Linked DNA regions of Homo sapiens: all the other regions are linked to region 2. Evidence: fine-mapped expression QTL. A gene starts in region 2. Each other region holds a variant in brackets. All regions are shown on one strand. Distances are from middle to middle.

Region 1 (7,344 bases), 23 kb after region 2:
AAAAAGAAAAGACCACATATAAAAAAATATATATATGGCATGCAAACAGAAATGAAGTTTTCAGGGCGACAGGCAGATGGCAAAGTTTAATCCAGTTCCAGTTCAGCCCCCTCTCGCCTCCGTCCCTCTCTACCTCCATCCCAAGAAAAACCGGTACAGAGGGTCTGGTGCAGGGTAGGCTGGGGCAGGCTCTGTGTGTGTTGGAGTGGGGAGCGGAGGTTGTACAGACAGAGGTGTGGGATCACAGGCTGACTGAACCCGGAAGAATTCCAGACCCCCCTTTGCTAGTTGCAGGTGCAGATTAACAACAGCAGGTGTGCCAGGTGGGGCTCACAGTCAACCCAGGTGAGCTGGACCACGTGAGAGTTGAACCATAGGACTGGGCCACCAGGAGGTGGGGTGCCTCTCCAGGGAAGAGGGGAGCAGGTGGGGGGGAGGGGCTGGGCCTTTTCGCAGTGTGCCCCCCTCCCTCTCCCTACACCCAGAGAGATGTGACAGCACCTGAGAGGCGAGGACAGGGCCACACAGACCCCCTTATTTCTGTGACCCTCCTGAAGCCCTCACACCAACAGTGTCTGTGTTTGCTGAAGGCCACCAGCACTCCAAGAATCCCAGCTGGCAGGCTTTTTTCTTTTTTTTAAATAAATGTTTTTGTGTATATTTAAGGTAGACAACCTGATATGATGGGATTCATATAGATAATATAGATAGCACAAAGGTTCCTATAGCGAAGCAAGTTAACATATCCACCATCTCTCATAGTTACCCTTTTTTTTTTTTTTTTTTTTTTGTGGCAAGAGCAGCTAAAACACACTCATTTTGCATGAACTCCAAATACGAACAGTGCACGCTGATGGCCTGCAGTCCTCTGCCGTGCTTGGCTCTCTGGACGGTTCATTCTACATGGCTGCTGCTTTGCGTCCTCTGACCTCCCCATTCCCTATCCTGAACCCCCCAAACTCCTCTTCACTCAGACGGCGGGTGCTCCTGTAGAGCGGCAAGGCAAGGATGGGGCTCTCCAGGGGACCCTGCCAGTCCTCCATCTTCTGGTCACCACCTTGACAAAGCAGTGGAGACTCAAGTCAGGCAGGCTCACCTCCCAGCCATCCCCTCCCGAGGCGTCTGAGAGTGTTCGTTTGTTTTGAGACGGAGTTTTGCTCTTTTTGTCCAGGCTGGAGTGCAATGGCACGATCTCGGCTCACTGCAACCTCCACCTCCTGGGTTCAAGTGATTCTCCTGCCTCAGTCTCCCGAGTAGCTGGGACTACAGGTGCGCACCACCACGCCCGGCTAATTTTGTATTTTTAGTAGAGACGGGGTTTCTTCATGTTGGCCAGGCTGGTCTCGAACTCCTGACCTCAGGTGATTCGCCTGCCTCAGCCTCCCAAAGTGCTGAGATTCCAGGCATGAGCCACTGTGCCCGGCCTGCCTCTGGGAGTTTTATGGTGCCAAGCACATCAGTGCCCCAGCAGAAGAGACATGAGGCTTACTCACCCCACTAAATGAAGGCTGTACCCCATTTTACAGAAGGAAAAACTGAGGCTCGGCGAGGTGACATGGCTCACCCACGAGTCTGGCTTCTGGAAAGAACAGACTTGGTAGAAGTGAGATGGGAAAGTGCCAAGGACAGACTCCTGGTAGAGCCACGTAAGGGCCTGGGCCACGGGCAGAGGATGAGAACCAGGACACGGCAGTGTCTCCCAAACAAAGAGAGATGAGTTCACAGAGGCAGGGCTGGCCACCACCAAAGCCAGACAGGCAGAGCACACAGGCCTGTGGTGCCTGCACTCAGACACTACAAAGGCCTTGGTCACTTTACATGTTAGTAAAGCCATGGCCTTGGAGAGGGGACCCTGGGAGGCTGGGCCCCAGGCTCTTGCCACCACCTCGGAAAGACTGCCCAAGGTGGTTCTCACAGAAGGCAGGAGCTCCTGGTCCACCTTGGTCTCCTGGAGGCATCATCCCTGCAATCCCTGCTCAGACCCCATAAAGAACTTAGGAGACTGCCCTCCCAGAGGCCAGCAGACTGTGTTACAGGGCACCTGGGAGCACTGGTCAGGGTCCGATAACGCCTTGAATGTGTAAGCCTCAGTAGGCACATGGCACACAGTAGGTCCTCATAAACACCTTCGAGTCATGCGTAAGC[G/T]GTGATGGCCGCTCTTTGCCCTGGCCACAGCCCTGCCCTGCAAGCCCCACCACCTGAGCTCTGCAGCCAGGGCCCGGTTGGACCTCTCAGGCCATCAGCAGCTCTCCCTCCTCCCTGCATCGAGCACCCATTTCCTACCTGGCCCACGTGGTCCAGCCCAGCATCCTGGAGGTGATGGCCGCAGTGGAGGCAAGGCTGCCAACCAGCACGATGGTGGGTGCCCTGGGCAACCCTCCTGGGAGGGGGCGGAGGCAGCTGGGTTGGGCTTCCTTTAGGCAGGGGCCAGGGTGGGCATGGTTGCCTCCTGTGCCCTCTCTGCTCTCAGCAGTGGCCGGGTAGAGCTGTCCCACTTCCCATCGACCTGTGTCTTGGACACTAGCACCCTCCCGGCACAGAAGCGCCAGCTGCCCCTCTGGAAATCCAAGGGCCCTCTCACCTGGGGGCACCACTGTGAGGGCGCTGTGCTGGACATTGGCGTTGTTTGCAGCCTGGCACCAGAACCAGTCCGATGTCTGGCTCGGCAGGAAGGAGAAGTTGGCAGGCTGCCTGTGGCATGGTCTCTGCTGCAGGTGGACCTGCCCATCCTTCCCGATCAGGCTGTTGGTGATAGGTGGGCTGCCCGAGGACGCCTGGCAGATCATCTCCACCCTGGGGCCTGCCCCTCTGTCCTGCAGAGTGAAGTTGGCCCGCAGCTCAGACACTGGCTCTGGCAGGGTGGGAGAAGGTAGCACAGGCATGGCTGAGCGGTTTTAAACCCCTCCTCCTCAGTAAGTTCTCCTCATTACAAAATGCCTAATGAGCTTAGCTGTGGCTGCCGCCTCCTCCAGGCCGCCTTCTAGAGTTTGCCCTCCACCTTGTGTCTGGGCTGCTGCCCTACCTGCCGTGTGTACCACACAATTTCACATTTGGTTTTTATCTTATTCTTACTTTATTTTGAGACAGGGTCTTGCTCTGTCGCCCAGGCTGGAGTGCAATGGCGCGATCTAGGCTCACTGCAACCTCCGCCTCCCCAGCTCGAGCAATTCTCCCATCTCAGCCTCCCGAGTAGCTAGGACTACAGGTGTGCACCACCACATCCAGCTAATTTTTGTATTTTTTGCAGAGATGGGGTTTCACCATGTTGGCCAGGCTGGTCTCAAACTCCTGGGCTCAAGCAATCTTCTGCCTCAGCCTCCCAAAGTGCTGGGATTTTAGGCGTGAGCCACCGTGCCCGGCCTGGTTTTATTCTTGTGTAGCGTATTTCAGATTGCCAGACTTAGCAAATAAAAATACAGTTAAATTTTCATTTCAGATAAACAATGAATAATCTTTTACTATACGTATGTCCTATGTAAAATTTATCTGGCAACTCTATCATTCAGTCTCGTCTTTTTTACTGAAAGGCAAGCTACTTCAGGACAAAAACTGTCATGTAGAAGATTCTAGAATCCCCCAGGCCTTGAGCCTAATGCTCTAGACATTCTTACTGATGAGTAATCACCACCACACTTGCCACCTACTAAAAGGCTTTCATTTAATAGGTCCCCTGAAGTAGGACCTATTATTATTTTAGAGACAGGGTCTCTGTTGCCCAGGCTAGAGTGCAATGGTGTGATCACCGCTCACTGCAGCCTCCAACTCCTGGGCTCAAATGATCCTCCCACCTCAGCCACCCAAGTAGCTGGGACGACAGGCATGCACCACCATACCTGATTAATTTTTTAAAAAATTGCTATTGGCTGGGTGCAGTGGCTCACGCCTATAATCCCAGCACTTTAGGAGGCCTAGGTAGGTGGATCACTTGAGGTCAGGAGTTTGAGACCAGCCTGGCCAACATGGTGAAACCCCGTGTCTACTAAAAATACAAAAATTAGCCGGCATGGGGGCAAGGGCCTGTAGTCCCAGCTACTCGGGAGGCTGAGGCAGGAGAATCGCTTGAATCTGGGAGGCGGAGGTTGCGGTGAGCCGAGATCGTGCCACTGCAGTTCAGCCTGGGCGACAGAGCAAGACTCCATCTCAAAAAAAGAAAATAATTTTTTTGCAGACACAGAGTATCACTCTGTGGTCCAGGCTGGTCTCAAACTCTTGGCTTCAAAGGATTCTCCCACCTTGGCCTCCCAAAATGCTGGGAATACAGGTGTGAGCCACCTCACTGGCCTCTGTTATTATTTTCCTTTTGCAGATAAAGCAGTTGAAGCTCAGCGGTCCAATGAGTTGTTCAAGACCCCAGCCAGTAAGTGTAGGGATTTGAACCTTGGACCCGTTGGGCTGCAGATCCTGGGCTCATCTCCCCTAGGCTGTCTTTTCCTGGTGTTCTTAGGGTGCGGGCCAAAGGATGAATGGGGCGATTCCTTGTCCCACCCTAAGTCGGGCAACACTTCCTGGTTCCCATACCCCATAGCTCCCACCAAGAAGGTTACCTGAGTTACTATCAGGATGGAAACAGGAAGAAGGCAGGGTTTGGAGCTGGACAGAGTGGGGTTTGAAAGCAGCCTTGGCCACTTGCCAGCCATGTGGCCTGGGGCGACTTTTTTTTTTTTTTTTTTTTGAGATAGTCTTACGCTGTCACCCAGGCTGGCATGCAGCAGCACGACCTTGGCTCACTGCAACCTTCATCTCCTGGGTTCAAGTGACTCTCTTGCCTCAGCCTCCCCAGTAGCTGGGATTATAGGTGCCCACCACCACACCCAGCTAATTTTTGTATTTTTAGTAGAGATGGGGTTTCACTACGTTGGCCAGACTGGTCTCAAACTCCTGAGCTCAAGTGATCCTCCCGCCTGGGCCTCCCAAAATGCTGGGCTTATAGGCGTGAGCCACCACACCCAGCCCCTGGGGCAACTTTCTTAACTCCCCAGAGTTTTAGCTTACATAGCTATAGACCCAGAGGCTCAGACCCCACCCCTGACACTGCTGTGAAGATCAAGCGAAGTAATGCACAAAACGTGCCTAACTTTTTTTTCGTTTCTTTTTCTTTTTTTTTTTTTTGGAGACGCTCTGTTACCCAGGCTGGAGTACAGTGGCGCAATCTTGGCTCACTGCAACCTCTGCCTCCCGGGTTCAAGCGATTCTCCTGCCTCAGCCTCCTGAGTAGCTGGAACTACAGGTGCACCCCGCCACGCCCAGCTAATCTTTGTAATTTTAGTAGGAACAGGGTTTCGCCATGTTGCCCAGGCTGGTATCGAACTCCTGGGCTCAAGCGATCAGCCTGTCTCGGCCTCCCACAGTGCTGGGATTTGCGCCCAGACAAACGTGCCTAGTTTATCACCTTGAGGTCCGAGCTGACAACTGGGGCCCAGTCATTTCTGCCACCATCGGGCTCTTTCCCTCTGTGCCCTCAGGCCCCTGCCAGGAGACTGTGCCCTCAGGGCCCCAGCCAGGGACAGCAAGTCCTGATTAAAGGCCCCAAGGGACTGAGAATGGCCTTGGAGGTGGCAGCCTGTCCTTGTCCACACCCTCACACCCTGGCTCTCTCTAACCCCAGCAAGGTTCACAATCCCCACTCCCAGAGCTCCCCATTGATCTGCACCCCACCTGCCTCCTCAGCCCTGTGCCCCCCACCGCACTCACTGGACCACAGCTCCCAGTGCATCTGTAGCCTGGCACTGTCCACATGGGCACCTGAGGTGGAGGACGCCCAGCAGAAGTAGGTGAGCAGGTCTGGACTGGACTTGAGTGTGACGTTGAGGTTGAAGGAGGCCGGCTCGTGGGTCTTCACCACCTTCTTGGCCACCTTGATGTTCTTGGTTCCACAGAGGGAATAGGTGATGGGCGGTGGTGGCTGGGGTGCACAGCAGGTTATGAGCACCCAGCGGCCTTTGGGGAAAACTTCCAGGACTTTGTAGGCAATGGAGACCACAGGGGTAATTTCTGGGAGATGAAAAGGTCCAAGGAGGAAGAAAGAAACCGACATTGATCAAGCACCTTAAGAAGGTACTGGTTTGGCCAGGCTCGGTGGCAAACACCTGTAATCCCAGTGTTTGGGAGGTCCAGGTGGACGGATCACTTGAGGTCAGGAGTTCAAAACCAGTGTAGCCAACATGGTGAAAGTCTGTCTCTACTAAAATACAAAAATTAGCCGGGCGTGGTGGTGCCCACCTGTAATCCCTGCTACTCGGGAAGCTAAGGCAGGAGAATCTCTTGAACCAGGAAGGCGGAGGTGGCAGGTGGCAGTGAGCCGAGATCACACCACTGCACTCCAGCCTGGGCGACAGAGGGAGACTCAGGAAAAAAAGAAAAAGGATGCTGGGTTTAGCATGTTCTCTCTCTCTCTCTCTTTTTTTTTTTTTTAGATGGAGTCTTGCTCTGTCACCCAGGCTGGAGTGCAGTGGCGCGATCTCTGCTCACCACAACCTTCGCCTCCTGAGTTCAAGTGATTCTCCTGCTTCAGCCTCCCGAATAGCTGGGACTGCAGGCGCGTGCCACCACGCCTGGCTAATTTTTGTATTTTTAGTAGAGACAGGGTTTCACCATGTTGGTCAGGCTGGTCTCAAACTCCTGACCTCGTGATCCACCCGCCTTGGCCTCCCAAAGTGCTGGGATTACAGGCGTGAGCCACCGCGCCCGGCTGCAATTTACTTCTATAACAAACCTGCACATGTACCCCTGAACCTAAAAATTACAAATAAATAAGTGAAACCAGTAGACCTCAGAGTAAAGAAAAAAGAAAGAAAGAAAATACTGATTTAGTGGTTCCTCAAAAAGTTAAACAGACTTACCATATGACTCAACAATTCCAGGCCTAGACATACACCAAATAATAGAAAACAGGGACTCAAACAGATACCTGTACACACACGCTCATGGCAGCGTGATTCACCACAGCCAAATGGTGGAAACGGCCCAAATATCTATCAATGGACGAATGGGTAAATAGAATGTGGTTGATCCATATAAGGAATATTACTCAGCCTTAGAAAGAAATGAGCACAGATGCAGGCTGCAACAGGGATGAGCCGTAACAACATTCCACTAAACAAAAAGGCAGACGCAAAGGGCAACGGTTGCATGATTCCATGTGTGTGCAAAGTTCAGAACAGGAGAACCCACAGAGACAGAAAGCAGATTGGTGGTTACTGGGGCCCAGGGGAGGGGGAAATGGGGAGTAACTGCCTAATAGATACGGGGTTTCCTTTTGGGGTGATGAAAATCTCTCGGAACTAGATAGCGGTGGTGGTTGAGCAACACTATGGATGCACTAAATGCTGCTGAATTATCACTTTT
Region 2 (7,431 bases):
GTTTCAAAAAAAAAAAAACAAAACACTGGGCGTGGTGGCTCACACCTGTAATCCCAGCACTTTGGGAGGCTGAGGCGGGTGAATCACCTGAGGTCAGGAGTTCGAGACCATCCTGGCCAACATGGTGAAACTCCGTCTCTACTAAAAATACAAAAATTAGCTGGGCATGGTGGCGGGCGCCCGTAATCTCAGCTACTCGGGAGGCTGAGGCAGGAGAATCGCTGGAACTCGGGAGGTGGAGGTTGCAGCGAGCTGAGATCCCACCATTGCACTCTAGCCTGGGTGACAACAGCGAGACTCCATCTCAAAAAAAAAAAAAAAAAAAAGTAACAAGGAACCAGATTTTGAAGAAAGGGCTCAAAACCATCATGAGAAATGGGAAGTCAGGGCAGCCTCATGGCAAGGCCTGAGGTCAAATGCCATCTGACCTCCCTCACTTACTTACTGTTTTATCCTCAACAAGTTACTTAGTCTCTGAGATTCAGTTTCCTGACTGGTAGAAGGTATCTATCCAGGCCCGGCACAGTGGCTCACACCTGTAATCTCAGCACTTTGGGAGGCCGAGGCGGGTGGATCACTTGAGGCCAGGAGTTCAAGACCAGTCTGTCCAACATGGCGAAACCCCATCTCTATTAAAAATACAAAAATTGGCCAGGCGCAGTGGCTCATGCCTGTAAACCCAGCACTTTGGGAGGCCAAGGGGGGCGGATCATGAGGTCAGGAGTTGGAGACCATCCTGGCTAACACAGTGAAACCCCATCTCTACTAAAAATACAAAAAAATTAGCCGGGCATGGTTGCGGGCGCATGTAGTCCCAGCTACTCAGGAGGCTGAGGCCGGAGAATGGCGTGAACCCTGGAAGAAGAGGTTGCAGTGAGCCCAGATCGCGCCACTGCACTCCAGCCTGGGCGATAGAGCGAGACTCTGTCTCAAAAGAAAAAAAAAAAAAATTAGCCAGGCATGTAGTACCAGCTACAGTGTGCCTGTAATCCCAGCCACTCGGGAGGCTGAGGCAGGAGAATCACTTGAACCCGGGAGGTAGAGGTTGCAGTGAGCCGAGATCATGCCACTGCACTCCAGCCTGGGTGACTGAGCGAGACTGTGTCTCAAAAAAAGAAGGCATGTATCCAAATCACAAGGTTAAAAGAGATAAAGCATGCGAGTAAAATAAAGCAAGCCAGTCAGTGTGGGTTGCTTCTTCCTCCCAGTGAAGGAGCTCTTTGTCAGAGGTCCTTGGATCTGTCCAATCTGTACCTGGAAAGGTTATTACCTGTAGGATCCTTACAGCCACACCTGGCACACTCTGTGATCACTACCACCATCTTTGTTGCTATTATTTATGATCATGATTATACAATGGGTTTCTTTTCTTTCTTTCTTTTTTTTTTTGAGCCACCGCACCCGGCCTGTATGTTTCTAACCTTCACAACCCCAATGTAAATACCAGCTGTTCTGAATCCTTCAGCCTGTGCCACATAAGCACAGACCCAAAAACATTGTGTAACCTCAGATCAAGGTCCAGAACTTTGTCCCCTAACCTCCTGCGGGTCTATGGATTTTTTTTTTTTTTTTTTTTTTTTTTTTTGAGACTAAGTCTTGGTCTATCGCCCAGCCTTCCAGGCTGGAGTACAAATGGCATGATCTCGGCTCACTGCAACCTCCACCTCCTGGGTTCAAGCGATTCTCCTGTCTCAGCCTCCCCAGTAGCTGGGATTACAGAGGTACATCACCACGCCCGGCTAATTTTTGTATTTTTAGTAGAAACGGGGTTTCACCATGTTGGCCAGGCTGGTCTCGAACTCCTGACCTCGTGATCCGCCAAAAGTGCTAGGATTACAGGTGTGAGCCGCCACGCCTGGCAGGGTCTACGGATATTATTAGCATAGTCAGGACTTCAATTTTCTTTATCCTGAAAACCAGGTTAACAAAAATCCTTAGGAGAAGGTAAAATACACCATGGTGCTCAAGCACTGGGGACCTGGCACGCACTAGGCGCTCTGCATGCCCACAGGAGTGCTCTAGACGGCTTCTAAGCTTCCTTCTTGGAATTCCAATCTAATAAATGAGCTAACTCCGCCCCAGCCCCTTAGTCCCTCCCTGCAATCCACCTACCTCTGCAGACATCTTCTTCCAAGGAACCTTGCTTGGGAAACCCACACCAGACACATCCATCATGGCGTCTACAGCCGCATGGGCGTGCGTCCCTCTGTTTATATGGCCAGAGCCCCGCCTCGCTCCGCCCCTTTAAACTTGGTGGGCGGACCGAGGCGGGGCTCAGACCAGGCCCCACCCCGATCAGCCACGTCCATCGCCCTGATTTCCAGGCCCTCCCAGTCCCTGGGCGCACGTCCCGGATTCCTCCCACGAGGGGGCGGGCTGCGGCCAAATCTCCCGCCAGGTCAGCGGCCGGGCGCTGATTGGCCCCATGGCGGCGGGGCCGGCTCGTGATTGGCCAGCACGCCGTGGTTTAAAGCGGTCGGCGCGGGAACCAGGGGCTTACTGCGGGACGGCCTTGGAGAGTACTCGGGTTCGTGAACTTCCCGGAGGCGCAATGAGCTGCATTAACCTGCCCACTGTGCTGCCTGGCTCCCCCAGCAAGACCCGGGGGCAGATCCAGGTGCGGGGGCCAGCCCTGCGCGTGGCTGGGGATGAGGTGGTCGTGGTGATAGCCTGTGTCCAGGCATCCGCGCAGGGCGGGCCCTCAAATGACCTCACCTTCTCTCCTAGGTGATTCTCGGGCCGATGTTCTCAGGAAAAAGGTAATGGCTTCGCGGGGCTGGGGTGGAGCTCCTTCCTCTTCTCCGGGGACCCCTTGTCCCGTCCCTCCCCTCCCCTTCCCTCCCCTCCCCTCCCCTCCCCTTCCCTTCCCTCCCCTTCCCTTCCCCTAGAAGGACCAGCACAGCCTCCTACAGCTCCCGCCTGGGGTGCTCCTCCCTTGAATTCAGTCCAGGAGGAAGTCTCTGCCCTCTTCTGCCCAGGCCAAGCCCCTCGTCCTGTGTGGACGCCACTCCCTCCTGGAGCTGGTGACAGCTGCTTACAGCTTAGCTGTCTTCCCCACCAAGTCCTCTGAGAAGGTGGCAACCAGTTGTGTCCCCTGTAGGCCAGGCCTTTTTGTACACCCCTATTCAATGTGGCTGTTTCCTTCTAAGGCCAAGGAAACGTAGTCGCTTTCTAAACCAAGGAGTCTGAAGCCGTGGAGCCTCTGCTCTCCTGAGGTGATAGAACCATTCCCTGACCCGGGTGGGGCTAGTGAGTTTCTTGAGTAAACTACCCACGCACCATTCTTTTTGTTTTGTTTTTGTTCTTCTAGAGGTAGGATCTTGCTATGTTGCCCAGGCTGGTCTCAAACTCCTGGGCTCAAGCAATTCTCTCACCTCAGCCTCCCAAGTAGCTGGGACTACAGGCGTGCACCCCCCCGCCTCCACCCAGCTAATTTTATTTTATTTTTATAGAGCTGGGGTCTTGCTATGTTGCCCAAGCTGGTCTTGAACTCCTGGTCTCAAGCAATCCTCCTACTTCAGCATCCCAAAGTGCTGGGATTACAGATGTTAGCCACCATGCCCTGCCCCAACATTCTTTTATGGCCCTGGGGATCACTTCAGCTCAAACCCCTTGCTCAGGAAGATGTGGCTCAGAGTTGGACTTCTTGGACCCAGAAGCAAGTGCTTTTGACGCTGCACACAAAGACTTTCTGAAATTAATTTAGAAAAGCTGTATGCCAGGTGTGGTGGCCCACGCCTTTAATCCCAGCGCTTTGGAAGGCTGAGGTGCGTTGATCACTTGAGGTTAGGAGTTTGAGACCACCCTGGTCAACGTGGTAAAACCCCATCTCTACTGAAAAAAAAAACCAAAAATTATCTGGGCATGGTGGCAGCCTCCTGTAATCCCAGCTACTCGGGAGGTTGAGGCAGGAGAATCTCTTGAACCCGGAAGGCAGGGGTTGCAGTGAGCTGAGATCGCTCCACTGCACTCTAACCTAGGCAACAGAGCGAGACTCCACCCCAAAAAGAAAGAAAGAAAAACTCTGAACTCTGGGAACAACTCTGGGATGAGGTTACTTTGGAATGCAGTCGCAGGTTCCCTCTACATGTAGCCTTTGCTTCTGCCTTCCCCACTACATCTTGGAGAAGGTTACTCCTCCCACACTTCCTGGGACCACCTGAGTACCATTCCTGGACCTCTTCCCCATAGAGAATTCTGACTTCCAACCCTCTTTGTAGGGATATTATACCCTGCCTGCTCTGCCCTGCTCTTTTCTGGCTGTGGTGGGCTCAGTCTGCATACCACTAGGGACAATGAGGAGCCAGGCTTGTTGGGGAGGGGTCTCCTTCTCCCACTCCTCCCGCCGTGGACCTCACCTGACCCTCTCTCCTCTTGCAGCACAGAGTTGATGAGACGCGTCCGTCGCTTCCAGATTGCTCAGTACAAGTGCCTGGTGATCAAGTATGCCAAAGACACTCGCTACAGCAGCAGCTTCTGCACACATGACCGGTCAGTCCCTGCCCCCTGCAGTCCTGTCCAGTGGAAAATCACAAGGCACAGGACACACTGTTAGGACTCTCTTTAATGGGGATGGTTAATCATTTGAACATTGAATGATTCAAATCAGCACACTTTCCAAGGTGCTTGGCAAGGTAGCGCACACTCTCCACTCCCTGGGCTGGAGCCAGTGGTTCTCCACTGAGGGTGATTTTGCCGCCAGGGTCCATTTGACAATGTTTGAAGACATTTCTAGTTGTTGCAACTGGAGGGGGGAGGGGATGCTTTTGGGCTTTAATGTGTAGAAATCAGGGACACTGCTGCTAAGGGTCCTATGGTGCAGAGGACGGCCCCCATGCAAGAACGAGCTGGCCCCAAATGTCAGGAGCCTGCCAGTGTTCAGAAACTCTGCCGTAGGGTTTCAGCTTCACACAGGCTGCAGACTGGTTTGGTTTGGCCTGCACGTTGATTTTTGTTTAATTTTTTAGTTGTCCGTTGTTGGCTGGCTCCCCCGTCACCTGGCAGCCTTCACGCTTCCCTGTTTTATGTGTAGCTGTTTGAGCTCGCTGGACATTTCCGCCTGCAACCTCAGTTTGGGAGTTAAATTCACTTCCTTGGCAGCAGATGTGGGCCTGATGTTTCTGAGCCTGAGACGCTTTGCTTGGTCCTCTGGACTTGTCCACCTGGGCACCCAGTGGCAAAGCCATGCTGTGCCACACATTATAGGGCTTCAGCCTCAGAGCCCTGGCTGGGAGCTGTATCCGAGAGTTGCTATGGCTGTGCAGAGAACAGATCCACCCGGCGTGTGGCCTTCGGTGGGAGCTGAGGGGCTCCTGAAGCCAGATGCTGGTGGAGTGGAGGGTGCTTGGGGCTTGGAGTTGCATGTGGGAATTTAACCGCACTTCGTGACCATGCTGTCTGATGTAGGTCATTTACTTTTCCAAATTTGCTTCCTCATTCCTAAGATGCGATGTCCACGGCACAGGGTGGTGTTACACCTGGTGGGGACAGGGAAAGCAGAGGAGGTCACTTCGTTCCAGCTGTTGGAAGTACAACTTCTGGAGTCAGTCAGATCCGGGATTAAATATGAGTTCTGCCCGTGTGTCACAAGTCATCTCTAACACGGGCCACAGAGGCCAAGGCTGGGCCAGCAGCATTGATGGCTCGAGAGGCTGCCCTTGCAGGGGCCACAGCTGGCCTCCCACCTGCCCTCACTTTGTCTTTCTCTGTTTAGGGAGGGAAGAGGGAATTTAAAATGCCCAAAATACTGTTTCACACATTCTTTCCAGAACTCGAAGTAGGATTATAGCAAGGTAATAACGAAACAATAGTTGTAAAGTATGTTTTTTTGTTTGTTTGTTGTTTGTTTTTGGGACAGGGTCTCTCTCTGTCACCCAGGCTGGAGTGCAGTGGCTCAATCATAGCTTACTGTTACGTGACCCCAAACCCTTGGGCTCAAGTGATCGTCCCACCTCAGCCCCCTGAGCAGGTGGGACTACAGGCGCACACCACCACACCCAGTTAATTTTTACATTTTTTTCACACAGTGTCTCGCTGTGTTACCCAGGCTGGTCTCGAACTCCTGAGTTCAAGTGATCCTCCCGTCTTGGCCTCCCCAAAGATTACGGGCATGAGCTGCTGTGTCTGGCCAGAATACAGGATTTTAAAAATTTATGTTTTGCAACATAATTAATATAAAGACAAATATAACCCAGGCCCAGTTCTAGTTATTCATTCTTCTGAATTTTAAAAGGAAACATTTGGCTGGCCCCTAATGGTATCATGGGCCCTGGTACCTGATGAAGTTGGCCTAGTCTGCCCCCAGCTCCTGAACAGTGGAAGAGTTTTTAGTCTCATTGAGCTTTGTACTGGACATTACTAATTTCTAATCCAAAGCATCAAGTGAAGTGGCTTGTATAAATAACTGGTTTTCCTCTGGGAGGCTAAGGCGGGTGGATCACTTAAAAGTTAGGAGTCTGAGACCAGCCTGGCCAACATGGTGAAACCCCATGTCTGCTAAAAATACAAAAATTAGCTGGGTGTGATGGTGTGTGCCAGTAGTCCCAGCTACTCTTGTGGCTGAGGTGGGAGAATCGCTTGAGACCCTTGAGAATTGGGAGGTAGAGATTGCAGGGAGCCGAGATGGCGCCACTGCACTCCAGCCTGGGTGACAGAGCAAGACTCTGTTTCATAAAAAATAAATAAATAACTGGTTTTCTGGACGAGGGCCTTTCCCATAGGTGCTAACTTCTCAAAGCCCGGCTGGGTGAACACTGAGCCTGCTTTGCAGGTAGCAGGTGGTCACGACAGTGCCATTCCCTGGCCCCTGCATTGTGGCTTCTGGCCTCCCTGGCCCTGCTCACGCTCTGGCTTTCTCTTCCCAGGAACACCATGGAGGCACTGCCCGCCTGCCTGCTCCGAGACGTGGCCCAGGAGGCCCTGGGCGTGGCTGTCATAGGCATCGACGAGGGGCAGTTTGTAAGTTGGCTTGTCTTGGCATCACTCTTCCTGCCAGCTTCCGCTCTGTCCTCCCGTTTTCCCTCGCTGACTTGGAAGTTATCTGATCTTTTAGTAAAATAACAAGGTTAAATAGCTACAACTAGTGTTGGAATACCCTCTGAAGGCCCCTTTCTAGTTTCCCTGTCATAGTGTCATAGTCTTGTAGGATTCGTTTTACTTTTTTTTTTTTTTTTTTGAGACGGAGTTTTGCTCTTGTTGCCCAGGCCGGAGTACGATGGCACAATCTCACCGCAAACTTTGCTTCCTGGGTTCAAGCAATTCTCTCCTGTCTCAGCCTCCCGAGTAGCTGGGATTACAGGCATGCGCCACCACGCCCAGCTAATTTTATATTTTTAGTAGAGATGGGGTTTCTCCATGTTGGTCAAGCTGGTCTCAAACTCCCAACCTCAGGTGATCCGCCCCGCCTTGAACTCCCAAAGCGCTGGGATTACA
Region 3 (7,927 bases), 210 kb after region 2:
AGACTTGCAACTGGTGTCTCAAGGAGGGACAGTCCTGGAGACTGAGTCTTCAACCTGTGAGATCTGAGTTATCTCCAGGTAGATAATGTTGAAATGGAATTGGAGGGTACCCACCTGATATCCACAGCAGAACTCCTTGCTTGTTTGATGTGTGAGAAGAAACCCTCACACATTTGCTCACAGAAGTCTTCTGTGTTGAGACCGACCCAGCTGGTGTCCACTGCAGAACTGACTGCTTGCTTGGCACGTGGGGAGAAATCCACACATTTGGTCAAAGAAGTCCTCTGTGATGATCACTGTTGTAGAGTGAGAGCCGAGGAAAAATAACCTGTGTTTTTCCCCCATCAGAACTCTCTTCCAGCTTTCTGTGTTGCTGTTGCCATTTATTATTTTTACTTTAAAAATTTTTAAGTTCCAGGTACATGCGCAGGATGTGCAGGTTACACAGGTAAACGTGTGCCATGGTGGTTTGCTGCACCTATCAATATTTTTACTGTTTTACACAGTTCACATTATTTTAGATGTATTCGTCTATCTATCCTTTCCAGTGCTCTTTACTCCTTCCTGCATCTCCATGCTTCCAGCTGGGATAATTTTCCTTTTACCTGAAGAACTTTCTTTATAGTACCTCTAGTGTAGATCTGCTGGTGATGAATTCTAATTTTTGTCTGTCTGAAGATGTCTATATTCTCACTTCATTTTTGAAAGATATTTTTGCTTCATACAGATTTCTAGGTTGGCAGTTATTTTCTTACAACACTTTGAAGATATCGTTCCACTGTATTTTGATTTCCATTTCTTTGCAAAGTAGACTGTCCGTCTTTACTGCCGCTCCTTTGAAGGTAATGTATCTTTTTCCTCCTTTGGCTGATTTTAAGATTTTCTTTGTTTTGGCAATTTTTCCTCTCTTTTCCCTTTATTTTTGTTTTTTGGTATTGATTCTGCTTAGAGCTACAGTGATTCTCAAATATGCAAGTCTGTATTAGTTTTGGAAGATTCTCAAGTTATTATGTCTTTTACTATTGCTTCTGACCTATTCTTTCTCCTCTCCGAGATTCCAATTATAAGTATTTTAGACTTTTAACAGTGTCCCATTTGTCTCTTACATATTTTTCTTTTTCTTTTCATTTTCCATCCTTTTGTCTCTCTGTGCTTTGGTATGGATATTGTCTTCTGATCTATCTTCTAGTTTACTAATTTTTTCTTCAGCTAAGAATACTATTAAACCCTCCTGTTTAATTCCTAATTTGAGTTGCTGCACTTTTAAAAGTTCTTTTTAATTTTTAATTGATGCATAACAGATACACATACTTTCAGGATTCATGTGATAATTTAGTACATTCATATGATTTGTAAGGATCAAATCAGTGTAATTGGGATATCCATCACCTTAAATGTCTTTATGTTAAAAAATTCAAATTCTTCTCTTCTAGCTATTTTAAAATATACAAAAGATTATTGTAAACTATTGTCACCCTATATTGCACTTTTCAATTCCAGAATTTCCATTTAACTTTTTTAATAGTGTCCAGTTCTTTCTGAAATCCTCCATTTGTCACTTAATTTACTAAACATATTTATCAACATTACCTTAAGGTCCATGTCTGATAACCCTAATATCTAGATCTCCTGTGGGTAACCTTATCGCCTGCCTCTTTTTATATGCTTAGTTTTTGACTGAATGTTAATCTTGCATGCACAAAACTGTGGAGATAGGCTGAGGCTGTGAATGTTACCTTCCTCTAGAGAGGATTTAGTTTTGCTTCTGACAAGCATTTAAGAGCAAGGGTGAATCACTTTAATCTATTTCAGCCAATTCAAAACTAAGTTTTTGTGTTTTGTGAGGGCTGGATTTCAGGAAAATTTTTAGGTTCACCATACACCTAGGGTAAAAAGTTGGGGTTTTTAGGGGGTAAGAAGGGTGGTTCCAACCAAAAGCCTGGGATGTTTACCAGGGTCTGTCATCCCTGAACTCCCGTTTTTGTGACCCCCGCCTCTGACATCTATTGAAAACTCTGCTTAGCTGCTCAACCTCAGCTTTTTGTTCAGGTTTTCAGTCCTAGCACTGAAGCTGGCAAATGCTTCTGAGGGGTCATGTGGCACCAAATGTTTATTCTGCCTCTTTAGACCTCCCTTCTCTCTAGGATCTTGGCCTCAAAGTCTTCAGTGTCCTAGTAGCTTCTAATACCTTCAAACAGTTGCTTTTTATTATTTACCTAAGCATTTTAGTTCCCGGCGGCAGGGTTGGTCTGACACTGGCTAGTCTGTCTTAGCCAGAAGCAGACACCCAAAATAATACTGAGCTTTACTATATGACCTTACAGGTAGCAAGTGAGATAATCTTATGAATTTACTTCCTTGATCTACCAATGTGGAGGAATATTAGTAGAGTTCTTTGCATTCTAAAGATAAGCCTTACTTCTACTATTCTATTGTTTTAATATGCTGTTGCATTTGTCTCAAATTCTCTTTAGAAAGAGGTTTTAGGCCGGGCGCGGTGGCTCACGCCTGTAATCCCAGTACTTCGGGAGGCTGAGGCGGGTGGATCACAAGGTCAGGAGATCGAGACCATCCTGGCTAACATGGTGAAACCCCGTGCCTACTAAAAATACAAAAAAAATTAGCTGGGCGTGGTGGCGGGCGCCTGTAGTCCCAGCTACCCAGGAGGCTGAGGCAGAAGAATGGTATGAACCTGGGAGGCAGAGCTTGCAGTGAGCCGAGATTGCGCCACTGCACTCCAGCCTGCACGACAGAGCGAGACTCTGCCTCAAAAAAAAAAAAAAAAAAAAAAGAGGTTTTAAAGAAAAAATACTGATACTGATGAATTACACTTTCTGGTAAATTATTTTAAGAGTCTCACATACACTTATGTGACAAAAATCTAAAGTTAGATATTTGCCTATCATTTTTTGTGTCTTTGGTATGTTAGCTTCATAAAATAAACTGGAAAGCTGTCCCTGTTTTTTAAGTTCTTAGGCAATTTACATAGTAAATATTAAAAGCATGAAAGGTTGAAAAGGAGAAACTTTTTGGAGATAATTCTTTTATAATTAAAATTTCTTTCTTGTTTTATTTAGGTTTTCTGAATTCTCAAAGGGATCTGGGACTACTTAAAAGATCCTATCCTAGCACATAGCTAGGGCTTAATAAATGCTGGTTCCCTTCTGAACTAAAAAGTTGTCTTTTTGTTTTGCAACATATCATAAAAAATATCTACCACTTCGGAGACAAGGAGTTCCTTTTCATAACCCAAAGCTTTAACTACTGGAGATTAGGGGTCTAGCAAAGATACTAGTGGAAATGAAAATGATACATTAATGCTCTTCATATTTTCCCCATCACTCCTATCTCATCAAACTTTGTAGAGAAAATTTATACCAGCAGAAGTCAATACAGAAATCTACTACATATGAAGATTTATTCAATTAATCAAGCTATATTTACTAAATACATATGTATAAATCAATACACACAGCTAAGTTTTATGAAAAGATAAACTAAACATGAATCCTGCCTTCAAGGAGTTTATAATCTAGTAGGAGAAAGAAAAC[G/A]TATATATAGTAATCATTATAAAAGTTAGAAAGTCTAAGTACCATAAAATAGATACCATCTGGAAACATTTATCATATAATGATTAATACAATTTGTACACAAGTAGCAACATGTTAAGCATTCTATTTTTTTCCTCTTTAACATACCTGTAAAATGAAGGGGAAACCAAGTTTTTTTTTTTTTTTTTTTTTTTTTTTTTCTGAGATGGAGTCTTGCTCTTGTCGCCTGAGCTGGAGTGCAATGGTGCAATCTTGGCTCACTGCAACCTCCACCACCTGGATTCAAGCAATTCTCCTGCCTCAGCCTCCCCAATAGCTGGGATTATAAGCACCTGCCACCACGCCCAGATAATTTTTGTATTTTTAGTAGAGATGGGGTTTCACCATATTGGTTAGGCTGATCTCTAACTCCTGACCTCAGGTGATCCACCTGCCTTGGCGTCCCAAAGTGCTGGGATTACAGGCATGAGCCACCGTATCCGGCCCCAAGTTTTATATATGAAGTGACTTAGTGACTATATATTGCTTAGGTATCTGATCTTACCAAATAAAGTTTTACCTGAATAGCTGACTTCAGCGATGAAGAATCCAACACCACATTAAGATAATACCACAGGAGACAAATTTATAAGCATTTCTGGAACCCTAACTGGGGCTACTGTGTGTGAAATACAGTAAACTGAACTGACAATCTGATCATCACAAGAACAAATCCTAATAGTCTTCACAAAGAATATGAATTCAATCTCTATCCCACATCTTTTGCTCAATTTTATATGCTAGCATTTGTAGATGTTTTCAGGGCAAAACAACCTCCCTCACCCACCTTATAAAACATACCAAAATGATTACTATAGTCATGTCTATGATAGGGTTAAATTTGACTCACTTCTTTGAAATTACAGAAACGTATACACAAATATGTAATTAAAGAGCAAATGTGTGATAGTGAGAAACAGACTACGCAGGGCTGAATATAAGGAAGATAACATGAGCCTACAATGTGAGAAACTTACATACTATCTCATTTAATTCTTACAATAATCCTGTAATAGTATATATTATTATTCATTTCTTCTAGCTGAGCAAACAAAGGCTCAGAGAAAATAAAAATTAAACCCAAAGTCACCTAGCTAATAAGTGGCATTCCTAGAAATCTAGCCCAGAGTTGACAACTCACTCTAAAGACCATGATCAGTTGAGAAAGTTTTATAACACCATGGAATGAGAAAAATAAAGACGACCTACATTTTTCATAAAGATGCATTTATTCAATTTATAGGATTCTCCTATAAGATGGTATCCTTTCCACTTCTTTGCATGAGAAAGTCCTTTACTTTATAAAGTAATGATAAAAGTATATCATGGTACTTTTTATTCAAGTCTTATGTGGCAAGAGTAAAAGATGGCAACTGTAAATTAGTTTCCACTTCTGTTGTTGAACCTTTACTCTTACATGATGTCCCAAAGCCTCATAATCACAATGCTATTTCATATTTTCAAAAGACCAGATTTTACCCAAAAAAGAAAAATGTTTGATTAAATATTTAAGAAATGATTACCTTCCTACATGAATGACAAATATTTTTAAAACTGCTATGTGTAGCTGCCTTTATAGGCAAAATTATAAGGGAGGTCTCCCCATTCCCTCCACCACCATCTTTCCACCAGTTGCCCAGTTTTAACAATTTGGCTTCTTTCTCCCTCCAGCACACTGCATCTGCCCTCCCACCAGCACATTTCAACACTCAACCTCAGTGGATATGCTCATTATCTTGACTGTGGCTGTAGTTTCACAGATATATATGTATATCAACATTTATTGAATGTTATACTTTAAATATGTGCAGTTTAATGTATATCAGAAAAAAACCTTAATACAGATGCTAAAAAAAAACCTCCTAAGGTAATAACGTATTTGATTCTTTTGATGTACATTATTATTTTCACCACCTGAAGGTATTTACACCTGTTTTCATGGCCACCAGCAAAAGATGCATGGAAGAATTTTTTTCCCCCCATACATGAGACTTAAAGAAATTTCTTTTCTCATCCTCCTCAGTATCATATTTAAGTTTTCTCAACTGAATGTTTCTTTTTTAATCTGGCTTATTTCTTTCTTTGATTACTAGAAAGATACATTTTAAAGATGTTTGTTTACAAATTTGTTTTGCAAATTGTTTTTTCCCTTGCTCATTTACCTATGGCAAAAGGCATGGAATTAGTTTTCTGCAAAACCTGGGTTTGAACCCAGGACTACCTGATCTTGGGCAAGTCACACTGCCTCTTTAGGTCTCTGTTTTCTCCTCGGTGAACTCTACAGAACTGTGAATTTTGAACAGACTCAATGAGTTAAGATTTGTTCTTGGAAACATAGCAGAGAAACAAGACATAATACCTGTTAATAGCACTGTTGTTGCTAATCTATTATCACCCTGACTACACATAACATTGAATAACAATGGTAATATAAACCCAAAACGAAATGAACCAAAAACATACACAAGTAGGGTGCAGTGGCACGTGCCTGCAGTCCCAGCTACTCTTGAGGTTAAGGTGGGAGGATCTCTCAAGCCCAGGAGTTCAAGGGCAGCCTGGGCAACACAGCAAGACTCCATCTCTCCCTCTTACTTTTTTTTTGGGGCGGGGCGGGGGTGGTAATGAAAGAGGGGACATGACTGCTGATTTTACAGGAATTGAGGTAGGTACCATAAACAACTTTATGCCAACAAAAGATGATTTAGATGAAAGTACAAATTCCTAGGAATAGACAAATTAACAAAATCAATGCAGGAAAAATGGAAAATTTGAATGGACACATAGCAAGAAATCTCATCTGTTTATCAGCTATTTGTATATCTTTTTTGGTGACATGTGTATTGAAATCCTTCGCCCATTTTAAAATTGGGTACTTTGTCTTATTATTAAGTTACGAGAGCTCTTTATATATTCTGAATACAAGTCCCTTACTAGCTTTATGATTTGCAAATATTTTCCTTCAGCCTGTTTTAACTTTTCATGTTCTGTTTTACCTCCATTCTTTTTCTTTCTTTCTCTCTCTCTCTCTCCCCCCTCCCCCTCCCTCCCTCCCTCTCTCCAGGTCTTTTTGCATTTCTGCATAAATTTTAGAATTGGCCTGTCAATTTACAAACAACAACAACAACAACAACAAAAGCCTTCTGGGATTTTGATAGAGATGCATCAAATCTACAGATCAATCTAGGTAGAGTGCCAGATTAACAATATTGTGTTTTCCCATCCATCAACACAGAATGTCTCTCCAATTATTTGGATCCTCTTTAATTTCTCTCAGCAATGTTTTTGCAGTTTCGGTGTAAACATCTTCACTTCTTTTGTAAATTTATTCCCCAGGATTTAGTTGCTTTTGATGTTATAGTGAATGAGTTTTCTTAATTTCATTTTCAGATTGTTTACTGCCAGCATCAAGAAACACAAATGATTTTCAAACACTGGTCTTGTAAGCTGTGACCTTACTAAACTTATTTACTAGTTCAAGTAACCTTTCTTGTGGATTCCTAAGGATTTTCTATACACAGGGTTATGTCATCTGTGGATAAGGACGGTTTCACCGCTTCCTTTCTAATCCAGGTGCCTTTTATTACTTTCCCTTACCTGACTACATAGGCTAGAAGCTCTAGATCAGTGCTGAATAGCATTGAACTGATATTCTTTTTTTCCCAGTTTTGGAGAGAAAGCATTCCGTCATTCACTCTTCCGTATAATATTACTGTGTTTTGTATGGTTTTTCATATATGTGCTTTTTATCAAGTTGAAGCAGCTCTCTTTTATACCTAATTTGTTGAAAGTTTTTCTCATGAAAGAATGTTAGATTTTGTCAAATGCTTTTTCTGCATTTATTGAGATGATCATGTGGTTTTGTTCTTCATCTATTAATATGGTGTATTGCCCAGGCGTAGTGGCTCACGCCTGTAATCCCAGCACTTTAGGAGTCAAGACGGGCGGATCACCTGAAGTCAGGAGTTCAAAACCAGCCTGGCCAACATAGTGAAACCCCGTCTTTACTAAAAATACAAAAATTTAGCTGGATGTGATGGCAGGCGCCTGTAATCCCAGCTACGCAGGAGGCTGAGGCAGGAGAATCGCTTGAACCTGGGAGGCGGAGGTTGTGGTGAGCCGAGATCGTGCCATTGCACTCCAGCCTGAGAGAGAGTTGCGAGACTCTGTCTCAAAAAATAAATAATTTATGATATTATTATTTATGATGTTATTGGCTCTGGCATCGTGGTAACATTGCCCTCACTGGATCAGCTGGTAAATGTACCTTCCTCTTTTAATTTCTGGAAATGTTTGTGAAGGCTTGGTATTAGTTCTATGTGTTTGACAGAATTCACCAG

Direction of the effects. Positions count from the first base shown, and alleles are read on the strand shown. Sizes are in standard deviations (SD) of each study's normalised expression. Not every link is listed here.
With allele A in place of G in region 3, the expression in vagina of the gene that starts at base 2,494 in region 2 is lower (moderate effect, 0.61 SD a copy in GTEx).

What was found. PIP is the estimated chance that this variant, and not a neighbour inherited with it, causes the effect.
Region 1: its variant is fine-mapped to the expression of TK1 in whole blood (TOPMed, PIP above 0.99).
Region 3: its variant is fine-mapped to the expression of TK1 in vagina (GTEx, PIP above 0.99).

Annotation. Positions count from the first base shown.
Region 1 is chr17:78,159,602-78,166,945 of GRCh38, reverse strand. It overlaps C17orf99 (chromosome 17 open reading frame 99), which reads right to left. Exons shown (of 5, transcript NM_001163075.2): 3 at 5,692-5,991; 4 at 2,582-2,851; 5 at 649-1,057. The coding sequence ends at 900. Among named protein-coding and RNA genes, the nearest start is that of SYNGR2, 5.3 kb to the left of the region's middle. RefSeq lists enhancers at 2,385-2,885, 6,877-7,036 and silencers at 6,517-6,566, 6,607-6,656. The variant G/T (reference allele first, on the strand shown) is at 2,146.
Region 2 is chr17:78,182,115-78,189,545 of GRCh38, reverse strand. TK1 (thymidine kinase 1) reads left to right here and starts at 2,494. Exons shown (of 7, transcript NM_003258.5): 1 at 2,494-2,617; 2 at 2,728-2,759; 3 at 4,381-4,491; 4 at 6,864-6,957. The coding sequence starts at 2,552. It overlaps AFMID (arylformamidase), which reads right to left and starts at 2,184. Exons shown (of 11, transcript NM_001010982.5): 1 at 2,113-2,184. The coding sequence starts at 2,175. RefSeq lists a silencer at 2,202-2,341 and an enhancer at 4,380-5,281.
Region 3 is chr17:77,972,756-77,980,682 of GRCh38, reverse strand. All of the region lies in intron 1 of TNRC6C (trinucleotide repeat containing adaptor 6C), which reads right to left. Among named protein-coding and RNA genes, the nearest start is that of TNRC6C, 18 kb to the right of the region's middle. The variant G/A (reference allele first, on the strand shown) is at 3,552.